2 separate regions of the Homo sapiens genome follow, and region 2 is linked to region 1. The links come from fine-mapping of genetic effects on gene expression. A gene starts in region 1. The other region holds a variant in brackets. All regions are shown on one strand. Distances are between the middles of the regions.

Region 1 (8,326 bases):
CCTCAGCCTCCCGGGTAGCTGGGATTACAGGCATGCGCCACCATGCCCGGGTAATTTTGTATTTTTTTTAGTAGAGACAGGATTTCACCATGTTGGTAAGGCTGGTCTCGAACTCCTGACCTCAGGTGATCCACCCGCCTTGGCCTCCCAAAGTGCTGGGATTACAGGCGTGAGCCACCGTGCCCAGACTTTTTTTTTTTTCTTTTGAGGCAGAATCTTACTCTGTCACCCAGGCTGGAGTGCAATGGCATGATCTCAGCTCACTGCAACCTCCGCCCCCCAGGATCAAGCAATTCTCTTACCTCAGCCTCCAGAGTAGCTGCGATTACAGGCACTTGCCACCGTGCCCAGCTAATTTTTGTATTTTTAGTAGAAACGGGGTTTCACCATGTTGGCCATGCTGGTCTTGAACTCCTGACCTCTGGTGATCCGCCTACCTCAGCCTCTCAAAGTGCTGGGATTACAGGCATGAGCCACCACTCCTGGCCTCTGTGCCCCTTCCTGACTCAAAAAATTTCAGTGGTTTGACACTGCCAGGAATTTCAGATTATTTATTTATTTATTTATTTTTTTGAGACAGAGTCTCGCTCTGTCACCCAGGCTGGAGTGCAGTGGCGCCATCTCGGCTCACTGCAAGCTCTTCCTCCTGGGTTCATGCCATTCTCCTGCCTCAGCCTCCTGAGTAGCTGGGACTACAGGCGCCCACGACCACGCCCGGCTAATTTTTTGTATTTTTAGTAGAGACGGGGTTTCACTGTGTTAGCTAGGATGGTCTTGATCTCCCGACCTCGTGATCCACCCGCCTCAGCCTCCCAAAGTGCTGGGATTACAGGCGTGAGCCACTGTGCCTGGCAGGAGTTTCAGATTCTTTAGCCTGACTCCAAGGTTCTTCCCAACAAGGGATCAAACTTTCACTGTTCCCACTATTTACCCATATTGCTCCTACAATTCCTGCCAGATGGATCCATTGATTCCTTCCTGAACATGCTTTGAATAGTTACCTCCTGCATGTTAGTGCCCTACAAGGCAGGTACCATGTGCACACCTCTCCATATCTGGAAATCATAGCCATTCTATAAACCAAACCCCTTTTCAGATGCTCCATGAAGCCCTGCTGACCACACTGGACCTTCCTAAACGCTCTATAGCACTTACAACAATCACACATACACACATACACGCATCGTTTTACTGACAGTCCTCTTCTGACATCAAATTGATAAATATCAACAACCAACTACATACAAGGCAGTAAGTATGCAGAATACAGAAAATGTGTAACACAAGGACTGTGCCTCCTCCAGAAAGAGCCAGTATCAGTGGTGGTTAATAACAAAGGTTCCAGCCGGGCGTGGTGGCTCATGCCTGTAATCCTAGCACTGTAGGAGGCCGAGATGGGCGGATCACTAGGTCTAGAGTTCGAGACCAGCCTGGCCAACATAGTGAAACCCCATCTCTACTAAAAATACAAAAATTAGCCAGGTGTGGTGGCGTGCCTGTAGTCCCAGCTACTCCGGAGGCTGAGGCAGGAGAATGGCGTAAACCTGGGAGGCAGAGCTTGCAGTGAGCCGAGATCGCGCCACTGCACTCCAGCCTGGGCGACAGAGCGAGACTCCATCTCAAAAAAAAAACAAACAAAAATTAGCCGGGCGTGGAGGCACATGCCTGTAATCCCAGCTACTTGGGAGGCTGAGGCAGGGGAATCACTTGAATCCAGGAGGCGGGGGTTGCAGTGAGCCAAGATCGCGCCATTGTACTCCAGCCTGGGCAACAAGAGCGAGACTCCGTCTCAAAAAAAAAGGCCCTGGAGTAAGTTAGATAAACTATGAGGTAAATCAGTTTCCTCATCAATAACATAGGAGCAATAACAGGGCTTGCTCTATAGAACCGTTAGAGGATTAAATGAGACAAGGCAGGCCAAATGTTTAGCACGGTGCCCAGTATGTAAGGAATACTTTACTGGCAGTAGCTTTTGTTTTTACCCAGGTGGCTATGCCACAGAAAAGAGGGCTCCTTCAAGATCCATGTCTTTTTGTTTTTGTTTTTGAGACGGAGTCTCACTCTGTCACCCAGGCTGGAGTGCAGTGGCGTGATCTCAGCTCACTGCAGCCTCCGCCTCCCTGGCTCAAGTAATTCTCCCGCCTCAGCCTCTCGAGTAGCTGGGATTACAGGCGTACATCACCACGCCTGGCTGCTTTTTGTATTTTTAGTAGAGACGGGGTTCCACCATGTTTGCCAGGCTGGTCTTGAACTCCTGACCTCAGATGATCCACCCGCCTCAGCCTCCCAAAGTGCTGGGATTACAGGCATGAGCCACCATGCCCGGCCAAGATCCATGTTTTTATACCTCTCCTAGGATCCCCAAAGAGCTTAGAATGGTGCTCTGCACTTAGGAGTGTTGACAGACACGGAAAGACCCCCCACTCACCCTCCTCCAGCCTACTAGGTCTTGCTGGGCCCCAACCCCCAGCCTCCCTAGAAAACCTCATTTGTATTCCACCGTAGCCTCTCTGGAGGCAGCAGCGGGCAGCGAGGAAGACACTCCAGCAGCTTCTTGGGGAGAAAGATCTTCAGGTGGTGGCTGTTTTCTAAAGGGAATTAGAAGGGAGGGTTTAGTGTGCTACCCTGGGGCATCCCTGTGATAGTCCAAGGGGAAAGGGCTGAAGGCAATACAGAGCACTGGGGAAAACTGAAACCTCACTAAGGAGAACAGAAAATCCAAGAATTAGAGGGCCACTAAAGCGTGGGGAGAACGAAAGGCTGTGGCCACATTGGGAACCTGGTTTGTGAACTTACCAGCAACCTCGGTGGTGTCCTTGGTATTCATGGTGAGGGCTCCAGGGGGCAAGGTCACCCCCGGCCTGAGGGGCCGGGGGGAGGGGGAGTCTGTGCTGGGAAGGGAGAGAACAAGGTCATGGCAGAAGCCCCCACATTAATCCAGGATGAGAAGTATGAGGTAGGGAGTGGGTATAGAACTGGGTCATAGTATCTGGGAAGGATGAGGAAAGGGAGGGAGGGGCTGACTGTGATGTGACAGTAGAAGAGAGAACAACACACAGTGCCCGGAGCCAATATGAGTGAGCAGACTGGACAGGAAGAGTGAGCAGGAAGAAATGGGTTGGGGTGGGGGAGCGGGGAGAAGACTGGCAGGGCTTGGGCCTCAGAGGCCCTAAACCTTGAGCTTTTGCACAGACTGGGGCTATGGTTGGGTCAGGTCCTGGGGGTTGGGACTCAGGCCATCCGGTCCTTGGAGGATGGTTTGGCAAGAGAGCCTGGATCCTGGGGGCAGGGCAGGAGATTCTACCTCCGGTAGAAGCTAGGCCTTTAGAAGACACGCCCTGAGTTCCTTCTCTGTTTGATTTTTCCAAGGGGAAGGGCAGATCTGATAACTGAACCTAACCTATTCTCTCCTCCAGGTTGGTTAGGACCTGATAGAATCTGGGCCAGACACCCAGATTCCCACCCTCAGGACAACCCACCCTCCGGCTGACAGCCCTCTCTACGTAGCTCCCTCTCCCCAAACGCCTCTGCCTCCCCTGGCCTCCAGGCCTAGCCTACCCCATCTACCGCTCTGGCTCCAGCCTGAGCCCCCCGCCCTCCTCGGGGAACAGATGGGAGCTGGCGGAGGCTCTCAGCACGGGCTCCGCCAGGTGTCCAGGATGGAGATGGGAGGAGGCCCGTCGGGCTCGGCTATGTGCAGTGAAGCTGGGGTTGGGGTAAGGACTCCGCCCCAGGGCGCAGGTGCGCAGTCCTGGCTAGGCAGCCTGCCAGGGTGCGGAGCGGGAGCGGGTCCTTGGGCTGCACTTGGGCGGCGCCGGATCGGACGCTTGGCACTCTGGGCGGCCCCCCGGCGGAGTGGTGGTCCCAGGAGAACCTCCGAGGTGGGAGGGTCCCGCCCGCATAGAGGGATGTTCTGGAGAAGCCGGGAGCAGAGTCCGCGGGCACGCGGTGGGCGAGGGACAGTGCAGGTGCCGGGTGCGGGGGTCTCCGGGACAGTCCCCGGCACGCGCTGGTCCGCCGTGGGGCCCTGCGGTGAGCGGCGCCCCCTGGCGCGGGGGAGGAGGACGGAAGCGGGAGGTGAGGGCGAACCGGGAAGAGGGACGGTGGTCCCTGGCGCGGCGCTCCGCGTCGGGACCTGGAGGAGCTGCGCCCTCTGGCGCGGGGGCGGAGAGGCGGGCGAGAGGCCCTGGCTCTTACCTCCCGGGGTCCCGCGGGTGACGGCGGCAGCGGCCATTCTACCCCACACCGACCCCCCCCAGCGCCGGCTGACAGCGGCGTCTAACGTCACTGCGCACGGGGCGGGGCCTCCCAATTAAGGGGATGAGGGTCAGGAAGGGAACCTGGGGTCAGCACACGTGGAGTTCTGGGTGGGGCGCTGGGCAGAGGGACTCGGCTTCTAGGGCTCTGAGCCAGGCCGAGGGACAGACTGCTGGGAAGTCCCCAAAAGGGCAGCAGCACTGAGGGGCAGGATTCCAGGGTCCTGGAGGCGGAAGCTCGGCCGACTGACTCCCAGTTCGAGAGAACGGGGCGGGGGCAGCCCACCAGTGCTGGAACCCGAGGGGCCGGGCGAGGAACGCTGGACTGGGAGCAGGACCCTTCTCGCCTCGGACAAGACTCCTTGTCTGGGGACCCAGCCCGACTTCATTGTAGCTGGGTCCTCGAGAAAGCGAAAGGAGCCCTCCTTCCCCATTGGCCTCTCCATCGCTGCATCCCAAGAAGAAAGACAACTCGGGCTCCACTTGCTTGCTTTTTAATAACAGAGCAGAGAGAATACAAGGCCAGGAGCGGGGCCTGGAGGAAAACAGGACTTGGGGTGCTCCTGTGAGAGCGGTGGGTTGAGATGGGAGCCCACGGGGGCTGTTAATGCCTAGTTCAGAGGATGGGAAAGGCAGTTGGAGAGACGAAGGAAGGGGAAACGCCTTCATGTCAGCAATGAGGGTGACTCTAGTGACGGAACTAGTCTTGGGTCCCTGGGGCACCACTAGCCTCTCGGCATCGGTGGTTTCTCCTTACTCTTCAGACGCTGCCAACTCCATCCCCCAGGGATTGTGAAGGGGGTTCCTTCTGGCTGTGACAGTGCTGAACGAGGCCAGAGAGTGCAGCTGCCTGGAGGCACAAGCCTCCTCCTGATCCAGGGGGCTCCAGGGAGACCAAAGCAGCTGTCAAGATGAGAGAAATTGAAAAAGAAAATGGAAAAGTAGGTCTTCTTTCCAGATTTCCTAGTACCCAAGCTTAGGTACCTCGAAGTCTCTGGTTCTCACCTACGTTATTTTTGTTTCTCTCAAATCCAGCTCTCCAGCCTGGCTCTCAGCTTCTGCATCTCCATGCAAGACCAGAGACCCACATCACTCCCTCACTCCACCCAGTTCCACTCCAACAATACCTGGGCCCTGCCAGGAGTGAGAAAACGGTCCTCTTCCTGTGGATAGGTTGCTCTCTCCTCTTCCAGATCAGGGTATTCATTGGTGCTGGGGAATCCACAGCCCTCTTCGCCAAGCACCACTGGCTCAGATGCAGCCCCAGAGCTGCCCCACTGGGCCTTCTTCAGTCTGTGGAGACTTTAGGCTGAGGAGAGAAGTGCCTGGAGGCCAGGCTTCCTGTCTCTCCATTCTTCACCTTTCTGTTCTGAAATACTTCCTGCTGGGACTCCAGGGAGTTGTCATTTGACCTTTAACCCTCCACTCCCAATTTTCTGCTCCCCTCAGACTGAAGCATATTGTCTAGGAACCCAGAGGTGACCCCAACCTCCCCACTGTCCTCCAGTTCTATGGTTTGCTTTCCTGTCTTCAGTGATCTAGTTTCCACTCCTTCCAGCTCATGTGGCTCATCCTCCTTACTGCAGTTCCCTCCTTCTTTCCATATTACAGAAATCTGTTTCAATCACACCAAAGCCCACAGCTTCCTTCCAAGCAACCTCCCCTCAAAGCTCCCCTCAAACCTCCCCTCAAAGCTGTCAACCCCTTCCTTAGCTCAAACTGTTCTGCCCCCAAATCCTGCATGACTCCCAGAACCCAGATGTCTCCCTTCCTTACTCGTTGATGATGCTCTGACGCCTTCTTAGGTCCTCCAGGTGGTAAGTGACAGCCCTCACCCGGGCGGGGACTCCCCCAAGGCCCTGCTGCTGCATTCCTTCCAAACATGGCCTCCTCTTCTTTCTTCTCCAAAGCATTTCAGGGGGTGGGAGCTGCTCAGGAGGATACAGACCAAGCTGGGAGCAACCAGTGGCTCTCTGTGCCAGAGAATGGGGAAAAAGAGCTAGAAAGAAGAACTGGCTCTCTCAAGGGAGCTTGGATTGAACTAGGTAGGGAGTCTGGGGTCTTGGGAAGACCCCTGTGATCTCGAAAACATGATGACTGATTCATAGAAAGGAAGGCCTGGTCAGTGCACTGGTTGGGGAATAACAGAGGGAAGCGGTAATAAGGAGAGCTTGGGACAGGACAGCAGTGGGTGCAATTTTAACAGAGAAATGTTAAACGGCAGAGGGTCTGTCTTACCAGCATGGGTGGAATGTGCTGCTCCTCCAGCCAAGTGGGGCTGTGAAGAACAAAAAGGGGGCTATAAGTGCAGAGGGGACATGTCCATCCATATTGCTTCTTTAATAATCTCTCCCGACCTCCTTTCTGTCATTAGGAGCTACAATGTCCACCAGCCAGTGGGAAATTAACCGCAGACTAGGGCCTATTGCTATATGGGTTTATGGTAGTTTAATCCAGTTAAGACCACATCCAGTTAGTTTCCATTTTCTCCTCTACTCACGTGGGCCTTTGATTAAGGTTCTTCCAGAAGACATCTCCATAACGCTGGGGCATGGGTCTGAGGCTCTGGGAAGGCAACCTTGGGGGTGGAGATCGGCTGACCACCCTGGAACACCTGAGGTGAGGACAAGGTAGGCTCGGGTCTGGCTCTTCCCTTACAGCAGTCTACTCATCCCAAGGATTCAGGGGCCATCTTTCCATGGGACTATAAAGCTGCCCAGGTTCCCTCGGGCCATGTCCTCTCTTAACCACTTTAGCTGAAGAAGGTGGTAAGGCCTCTGCTTTGAAAGGAAATTGAAGCTGGGTTGAGGGTGGAGATTGGCTATAGTTTGACCCTCAGATCTCACTGAGTTTAAGCTCTATATCGGGGATGTCCAATCTTTTGGCTTCCTGGGCCACATTGGAAGAAGAAAAATTGTCTTGGGCCACACATAAAGTACACTAACACTGGCCGGGCGTGGTGGCTCATGCCTGTAATCCCAGCACTTTGGGAGGCTGATGTGGGTGGATCACCTGAGGTCTGGAGTCCAAGACCAGCCTGGCCAACATGTTGAAACCCCGTCTCTACTAAAATCACAAAAAATTAGCCAGGCGTGGTGGCGGGCACCTGTAATCCCAGCTACTCGGGAGGCTGAGGCAGGAGAATCACTTGAACCCGGGAGGAGGAGGTTGCAGTGAGTCGAAATCGCGCCATTGCACTCCAGCTTGGGTGACAAGAGAGAAACTCCGTCTCAAAAAAAAAATTGCAAAAAATCTCATAATATTTTATTTTATTTATGTATTTATTGAGACCGTTTCACTCTTGTCACCCAGGCTGGAGTGCAATGGCACGATCTCGGCTCACTGCAACCTCCACCTCCCGGGTTCAAGTGATTCTCCTGCCTCAGCCTCCCGAGTAGCTGGGATTACAGGCACCCACTACCACGCCCGGCCAATTTTGTATTTTTAGTAGAGACGGGGTTTTGCCATGTTAGCCAGGCTGGTCTTGAACTCCTGACCTCAGGTGATCCACCCGCCTCGGCCTCCCAAAGTGCTGGGATTACAGGTGTGAGCCATTGTGCCCGGCCTAATCTCAACGTTTTAAGAAAGTTTATGAATTTGTGTTGGACTGCTTCAAAGCCATCCTAGGCCGCAGGTTGGACAAGCTTGCTTTATACCTCATAGTTAGAGAAGGTAATATTTAGCAAGCAGAGTTGTTAAAGAGGAAGGCCTTGGCTACTCAGGTTATATGACAGATAGGATTCATTTAGGTCAATGCAAGGATCCAGGGGAGAGAACCTCTGTTTACTTCATTTGTCTCCCCATCTCAAAAGGACTAATATCCTTGTAAATAGGAGTGTGCAGAGCTGTTTGAGAACACTGCTCGTCACTTCCAAACCCCACAGGCTGAATGATGATTGCCCTCCTGATCTCTAAGAAATGGAGTATGTTAGGGCTTAGGCCTGGGGCCCTTTATCTTCTCTGTCTTCATCTCTTCTTAGGTGATCTCACCCAGTACCATGCTGTCAATAAGCTGATGACTCCCAAATCTATATATCCAGCCCTGGTTCCTCTCTGGGCTCCACTCAACA
Region 2 (8,326 bases), 820 kb after region 1:
AGGTTTTTAGTTTGTTGAGCTTCATAGATATTGTGTTTCTTTTTAATTCATTCTTTCTTGCTTTCAACTACAAAGATTAAATATTTCATCTACCTTAAAAAATCTCATGGTTTGTCATCTAACTTATTGAATTGAAAGCTTGGTTGATTTGTTTTCATTCTTTTTGTTTGAGAATAAAAGTATTTTGGGTGATCACTTTTTCTTTGAGCTGGGCTTTGGTCTTCATCCCCTGGGATTTTATATATAGTGATCTTTGTGTCTTTAATTTTTAAGTGACCTGTAATTTTAGTTACCTTTGAACAGTGCTTTTCAAATTTTTTTGTGGTTAGTTTTCTGATATTATTCTTTTGTTAAATGTTTCTAGTTTTATTCTTTTCTAGCCAGAGAAGATTCCTTGTTAATGTCCTACATTTTTTGGCATGTACTGAAATTTTCTTTATGCATTTATCCTGGTCAGTCTTTGTAAACATTCAATGCTTTCATTATAAGTTATGAAGTCCTCTACATATCTACTGAATCATATTTGTTAATTATAATTATAACTGAGTTCTCTCTCTCTTTGGGGGGCAGAGGTATGTTAATGTCAATAGGCTAGTAATTTTATCTCTTCATTTTTCTGAAAAGCTTTTTTTCCCTATGTTTTGATTCTTTACTGTTCAGTGATAAATATCTTTTTATCAATGGTATTCCTCCTTGTTTTACAAGGCAGTTATAAGCTATTCTTATATTTATTCTTCTTCTGTCATTTTATTGTGGTTTGGCAGAAAGGGGAGGTATGTACAGGAGAGGACAGGAGAGGGGAGAAGAGAGGAGCACATACTTCCCCTTCCTTCCAAATTATTTTACAAACTCAGTGCTGCAGTTCAATAATGAGCTATTTTTCCAAAAAAGTTCAGAGAGGTTTTCTGTCTGTGATCACATATCAGAAGAGTTTTTGGGGCCCTTTGTGGGGAAAAGTAGAAAATCTGTGTCACAAAATATGTCATGACTATAAGAGACTAAAAAGATGCTCCCTGAGGTATTGCTGAGTTGCAGATTTCTTTTTTTTTTTTTTTCTTTTTGAGATGGAGTCTTGCTCTGTCATGAGGCTGGAGTGCAGTGGCATGATCTCGGCTCACTGCAACCTCCGCCTTCTGGGTTCAAGCAATTCTTCTGCCTCAGCCTCCCGAGTAGCTGAGACTACAGGTGTGTACCACCATGACCAGCTAATTTTTGTATTTTTAGCAGAGACAGGCTTTCATCATGTTGGCCAGGATGGTCTCTATCTCTTACCCTTGTGATCCACCAGATGTTTTTTACATCCGCTCCTTGGATGTGGGGAGGAGGCACTGGCTGCCCGCAGGTTGCTGAGCAGGTGGGACTATGTATAGCCAGGTTAGACAGCAACTCTGTTTGAGAACCTTGGCAAGGTCAAAGCCAAAGCTGTCTCAGAGAGCTGGTCATGGGACTGATTCTAACTCTTTATGAGGACAGCCAGGGACTGCCCTCATAAATACTGAAATAGATGTAAACAGCATGGCTGTTGAGGCACAAGTAGCCCAGGAGTCCTTTTAAATGATATTTCTTTTATATTTCAAGCAGAACATTTACTCCTACTTCAGACAGTTGCATTATAATCAAATTGAATCAGCCTGTTTTATACTTTATATTTAAGGCTGATAAGTTTCATCTAATTTAGAGGTCTGGCGAGCAAAAGGAAAAGACCTGGTCACAAAGTGGTGAGTTTAGGGCACCTGGATCCCAGCAAACAACATTTCCTGGGGACTTCTATCAGTACATGGGTTCACACTTTGGTTCTACCACTTTCTACCTATGTGACCTTAAGCAACTTCACCTTCATAAGCTTATTTTCTCTTCTATAAAATAAAGGTAATAATAATGTCTACTTCAGAGGCTTTTTGTGAAGATTAAGTGCAATAATGCTTGTAAAGCGTTGAACACAATGCTTGACACATAGTAAGCACTCAATAAATATTAGCTATTACTGTTATTATCTTGCACAGTGATGAATAATGTTGCTGCAGTCCTGTGGTGGCAGCTGAGAGCCAGAATGGGTGCAGAAAGCCGCTAGTATTTGGAATTCCTTCAGCAGCCTGGTTTGTTGATGCAGTGTTAAATTAAAGCCTATTAATTCATTGTGAAAACAAGCCTTCAAAAGGGCCTGGAATTTGCAGCTTCTTCTCCTGAATTCATGCTGCATGGCACCACTTTATTTTAAGAGTAATAAATGCTAGCTCAACAGTGGAGAAAACTCCTGCTGCTGGGTTTGCTGGGTGGCCTTGCTGGGTGGTTGCTGTTGCCACCTGCTCCCTGGCTGGAAGCTGCCAAGCACTTTCCTGGCAGTGACTTGGCCCAAGGCCGCAGCCCCCAGCACTCACTGTGGATGTGAAGTGGCCACAAAAACTGGTGGTGAGCAGGTGGTGGAGACAAGACAGGTGCCTGATTAGATGGGTTCTAGGCCATCTTGAAGCAGAAGTTATAAAAAGAAAAACAAATTTTCCTGTACTAGGCTGACTCACTCCAAGGCCCAGAGATGGGCAGGGCTCTGTCAGGGCTCTGATAGCACTATCTGCAGAGCCAGGGCCCAGAAGGGATGGGCTCCAGAGCCTCTCCCTCCTGTCCTGGAGCAGGGATGAGAAAAACAAGTTTTTTCTCTTTCAGCTTCCCCGTTTCCCCTTACTATTCTCATAATTATTTTTGCAAGTTTTATAAGTTCATGTGTTTCCCTTCTGTGCAAGTTCACAAGGTATGTTTGAGTTGCAAAACTTGTCACTGTTTGACCCACTGCCTTTGTTCTGCTTCTGTAAGCTTGCTTGCCTGCCCTACGGGTTTTCTGCCATCAAACTGGCCAGTCCCCTTTTGGATGCATATATAAAAGTCAAGCCCTGTCTTTGTTCAGGGCTCAGCCTTTGGATGCTAATCCACTGGGCTGGTGCACACCTAATAAATCCTCCTGTCTCACCCATTGGTCTCTCTTGTCCCTTGATTCCTGCAACAATCTCTGGGAACATTCATTGCAGCCTCAGGAATATGCATAGTGGGTGATGGAGGAGGGGGCTAGGAGAGCCCCCAGCAAGGGGCATGAGCTGCCCTTGATTTGCTGGAGTCCAAGGCCTGTCTAGGGAAGGAGTTGGGGGTGACTGAGGGGCAGCTGATGTGCACCAGGATCTCATTAGTCCTGTGCTTTACATCGATTCACAGGGCTCAGTGGCAGGGACATGCCAAAACGCACCCAAACTCAATACACAGGGAATGTGACTCTGATCTATTTCTTCACTTAAGGGAGTCATTTCACAAACAGCAAGGGATGCCAGAAGACCTCAGAGTTCAAGAAAACTGCCTATTGTGTTTCCTAAAAATAAGAAATCACTTTGAGCCCTGCACTGTTATAGGTAAAGGCAATTTCAGAAAGCCTTTAGTTCCATTGCCCAAGTTAAAAAAGGGATAATTTGTTTTAGTTTTTATCCAATTTATACATATA[C/T]CAAATTTGAAGACCCTGATAGGTCTATGAGGCTTGTTATTGGAAACCGTCCTCCCTCTTTCTCATCCCTGGAGGCAAGAACTTTCAAGATTTTAGCCCATTCTTGTGGTATTGATCTCTTTGCTTTATATAATAATCTTGCAGCTATTTCTATATTGTGTAGTGTTGGGCACTATCTCCTGGTTTCCTACTGTGAATAAGATGGATTTAGCTCTTTTTTCTTCTCACTGCTCTTCCCCCATTCTCTTTCCTCCCAAAACATGGTGAAGATTTTGGTGAGATCACCACCAGGTTTATGTTACAATCCCTATGTAAGTGCTTTTATAGCAGGAACGTGCAGTGTCCTATGATTACTTTTTCTTTCTTTTTTTTTCCCCTTGGGACAGGGTCTCACTCTGTCACCCAGGCTGGGTGCAATGGCATGATCTCAGCTCACTGCAACCTCCACTTCTCCAGTTCAAGTGATTCTCCTGCCTCAGCCTCCTAAGTAGCTGGGATTACAGGCATGCACCACCATGCCCAGTTAATTTTTGTATTTTTAGTGGAAACGGGGTTTTACCGTATTGGCCAGGCTGGTCTCAAACTCCTGACCTCAAATGATCCACTCACCTCAGCCTCCCAAAGTGTTGGGATTGCAGGCATGAGCCACTGCACCTGGCCACGATTACTTTTCTGCATACTATGATGGCCCAGCCTTTCATCTTCCATGCAATTCATAACTGTCCTGGGTCTTTCATTTCTCTCGTTTTCTGTGGATTTTCCAATAATCCAATGCCAAGCTCTCTGCCAATTGTCTAGATTTCCCCAGAAGGTGTTCAGACAGATATACTATATGTTTCATTTTCCTGAAGAAACCCCTAACCAGCCTGTCAGAGGTGGGTGTTCTCCCAGCCTGCTGCTTAGTTGACATCTGGGACCTTCCATCACATCATTGTGGAGATTCTCTTTGCCTGTCTCCTGGGTTGGATCTCCTGTGTACTCTGTCCCCTGTATCTCTTTCTCTGTTTACCCTGCTTATTGGGGACCAACCCATCTCTGCTGTTTTCATGAGAAACAGTGCCTGGAAGATAGACTTTTGACATCTTGCATGTCTGACAATATCTTCATTTGACCTTTACACATAATTGGTAGCTTTGCTGGGTAAAGACTTATAGGTTGGTAATTATTTTCCTTTCAATGTGGATCCTTCAGTTTTGGGATTTTTAGTCAATTGTTCCTTTCATCATTTTCTCAGGTCCCCTTTCTGAAATTCCTTTTGTTTAAATATTATACCTTCTGGACATGTCTGCTAACATATTTTTCTCCTTTCCACCTTTTTGTCTTTTGGGAGATATCTCTTCACTCTATCGTCTATCCTAATGAGTTTTTCATTTCTGCATAATTTTAGAAGCTATTTGATAATTTTAGAAGTTTTTTGATGTTTATGTTATTTCATTCTTTTTTTTTAATCGGTGCCATTTTCTGTTTTTTTGAGATAGAATCTCACTTTGTCACCAGGTTGGAGTGCAGTGGCATGATCTCGGCTCACTGCAACCTCTGCTTCCTGGGTTCAAGTGGTTCTCCTGCCTCAGCCTCCCGAGTAGCTGGACTACAGGCGTGAGCCACCATGCCTGGCTAATTTTTTATATTTTTAGTAGAGATGGGGTTTCACCATGTTGGCCAGGATGGTCTTGATCTCTTGACCTCATAATCTGCCTGCTTCAGCCTCCCAAAAGGCTGGAATTACAAGCGTGAGCCACTGCGCCTGGCCTCATTATTTTTTTACAGCAATCTTTCCTCTCTGCAAACCAAAAATAAAATTCTAAGACCCCCACAGCCATCTAAAGGGACCCCTCCTCTTGGCCAAGGGCATTCCAAAGTTAAGCTGAAAAACAAGTTCAGGCCATGATGGGAAGAGGGAGCTGGACATGCCTCATTATCCCCTCTGCCCTTTTGGAATTATGGATAGAACAGACTCTGTACATCTGAGAAGAAACATTTACAGTCTATTCTCTCTGTATCCTGCTACCTGGAGTCTTTGTCTGCATGATAAAGCCTTGGTCTCCACAACCCCTTATGGTTACCCAGACATTCCTTTCTAGTGATTTTTTTTTTTTTTTTTTTTTTTGAGACAGAGTCTTGCTCTATCACCCAGGCTGGAGTGCAGTGGTGCAATCTCGGCTTACTGCAAGCTCCACCTCCTGGGTTCATGCCATTCTCCTGCCTCAGCCTCCTGAGTAGCTGGGACTACAGGTGCCCGCCACCACTCCTGGCTAGTTTTTTTTATTTTGAGTAGAGATGGGGTTTCACCATGTTAGCCAGGATGGTCTCAATCTCCTGACCTCATGATCCGCCTGCCTGAGCCTCTCAAAGTGCTGGGATTACAGGCATGAGCCTCCGCACCCAGCCATTCCTCTCTATTGAGAATAACTCTTTTGACCAATTGCCAGTCAGAAAGTCTTTGAATCCATCTATGACTTGGAAGCCCCACCCTGGTTGTCCCACATTTCCAGATGGATCCAATGTACATATTATATGTAGTGATTAATGTCTCATGTCTCCCTAAATGAATAAAACGAAGCCGTTCCCTGCCCACCTTGGGCACACGTCCTCAGGATCTCCTGAGGCTGTGTCCTTAACCTTTGCAAAATAAGCTTCCTAAATTGATTGAGACCTGTCTCAGATACTTTTGGTTTACACTACTGTGATGGATAGTTTTCTCTCTCTTTAAGTTTCCCTTTTCCTGCAAGGTCTCTGCCTCCTCCAAGCTGCTCTTTTTCCCATGCTTATTTAAGTTTCTGTCTTTCACATTAAAGTTCTCCTCAACTGTCTGGGGAGCCTTAGTTCCAGCTCATATTTGAAAGCTAACTGGAAGCTGCGCTTATGGATACAGCTTGTCAATTGTGAGCTTCACGTAGCTGGTCTCTGGGCATCTCAATGTTGGTATCTCTAGGTTTTTCCTTTGGAGATTGTCAGATGACCTGGAGATCATTTCCATGTCCTGCCTAGCAATCTGGGAGCTGAGGGCGAGAAGAAGTCTGGGAGGTGGGGTTCCGCACTGAGTCTGCAAACCTTTACTAATTCTCCCTGCTCTCTGCTGTATCTGGGGTGCTTCAGTGCCTCTATTTTTTTTCCTTTCCCTAGAGAATAGACCTTCCAGAGACTAAAGCTTCAGTTCTCTGCAGGGGTGAGGAAAAAGGGACTTGCGATCTTCTTACACAGACTCTCAACTAATGGCTTTGTTTCTGTCACATGTTAATCTACATTTCCAGCAGACTATGGTAGTGGGGGCAGGTGGTCTGAGATGTAATCCAGGTTGCCTGTTGGCTTTTCTTACTCTTGATTGAGAAGCAGATTTCTTAGTTACAGCCCTTCCAACTGCTCCTCCAGCTGCTTTCCTGCTTCCAAAATTTTGTTGTAGTTATATCCTTTCACTTACCTTTTAAAACCTAATGGGCTTATGACTTAAAAGAAATCCTTTTATTGTTATTTTAGTGAGGCTTGAGATAGAGCAGTGCTAAATGCATGTGTTTAACCTGCGCCAACTTTAACTTTTTAAAATTACAAATAATACATGTTTACTGTAGCAAAATTAGAAAATATAATTAAGAAAATAACACATAATCCCAGCACTTTGAGAAGCTGAAGCGGGTGGATCACCTGAGGTCAGGAGTTTGAGACCAGCCTGGCCAATGTGGTAAAACCCTGTCTCTACTAAAAATACAAAAATTAGCCAGGTGTGGTGGTGTGCACCTGTAGTCCCAGATACTTGGGAGGCTGAGGCAGGAGAATCACTTGAACTCGGGAGGCGGAGGTTGCAGTGAGCCAAGATCATGCCATTGCACTCCAGCTTGGGTGACAGAGGGAGACTCTGTCTCAAAAAAAAAAAAAAGAAAGAAAGAAAGAAAGAAAATAAATGTAACCACAGTAATAATGCTCTTACTTAGGAAAAATGATTGTTAATATTACAGAGGTAGGTCCTTCCATTACTTCATATATATTAATTCTTTCTCACTATATTATATATGTATGCAATGATTGGAAATCAATAAACACACTATTTTTAATCTTAATGTGAACACCTTTCCAAGTCTCTAAACATATTTCTAAAATGATTTTAATGGGGCTGGGCATGGTGGCTCATGCCCGTAATCACAGCACTTTGGAAGGCTGAGGCAGGTGGATCACCTGAGGTCGGGAGTTTGAGACCAGCCTGGCCAACATGGAGAAACCCCGTCTGTACTAAAAATACAAAATTAGCCGGGCGTGATGGTGCATGCCTGTAATCCCAGCTACTCAGGAGGCTGAGGCAGGAGAATTGCTTGAACCCGGGAGGTGGAGGTTGCGGTGAGCCGAGATTGCGCCACTGCACTTTAGCCTGGGCAACAAGAGCGAAACTCCGTCTCAAAAAAAAAAAATTATTGTAATGGTTCATATTATTTCTTGAAATATTTTACAGTGTAGTGTATTTTTGTCCAGCCCTAAGTCATTGGCTATTTGGGTTTTGTCCACTGATTTTTCAGGATCATGATAGAAACTCTAATGGACAACCCTCTAACAGCACCCCAGAATTCAGAATTCCTGACGGCGGGTTCCAGGCATCTGTATATTTTTAAAGCTCCCAAAGTTTTCTGTGATTCTTGATTATTTCCTCAGGATCAATTCCTAGAATTGCTACACCAAAAGTATACTTAGAATTCTTTTAATTCTTATTACCCAGTTGTCCCTCAGAAAGATAACGTGCATTTCACCATCAATTTGTCAGAACCTGGCTTCTTTACCTTTGCTGATACAGGTATTAGATTTTAAAATGCCTCCCAGCCGAGAGGCCCAAATGGTGCATTGCCAGTGTTTTGATTTGTGTTT

Alleles and levels. Alleles are on the strand shown, and positions count from the first base shown. SD is a standard deviation of normalised expression in the study named.
For the expression in adrenal gland of the gene that starts at base 4,349 in region 1, T is the low allele of the variant in region 2 and C is the other (small effect, 0.32 SD a copy in GTEx).

Evidence for each region.
Region 2: its variant is fine-mapped to the expression of CAMTA2-AS1 in adrenal gland (GTEx, PIP 0.95).

Annotation. Positions count from the first base shown.
Region 1 is chr17:4,983,396-4,991,721 of GRCh38, forward strand. It overlaps CAMTA2-AS1 (CAMTA2 antisense RNA 1), which reads left to right and starts at 4,349. Exons shown (of 3, transcript NR_187235.1): 1 at 4,349-4,830; 2 at 5,021-5,197; 3 at 5,292-6,550. CAMTA2 (calmodulin binding transcription activator 2) reads right to left here and starts at 4,280. Exons shown (of 23, transcript NM_015099.4): 1 at 4,198-4,280; 2 at 2,797-2,891; 3 at 2,485-2,588. The coding sequence starts at 2,827. It overlaps INCA1 (inhibitor of CDK, cyclin A1 interacting protein 1), which reads right to left. Exons shown (of 7, transcript NM_001394789.1): 3 at 6,757-6,870; 4 at 6,495-6,534; 5 at 6,033-6,229; 6 at 5,384-5,549; 7 at 4,735-5,159. The coding sequence ends at 5,010. RefSeq lists a silencer at 3,760-4,299.
Region 2 is chr17:5,806,853-5,815,178 of GRCh38, forward strand. The region is part of intron 1 of LOC339166 (a long non-coding RNA gene); the gene reads left to right. Among named protein-coding and RNA genes, the nearest start is that of NLRP1, 230 kb to the left of the region's middle. The variant C/T (reference allele first, on the strand shown) is at 3,482.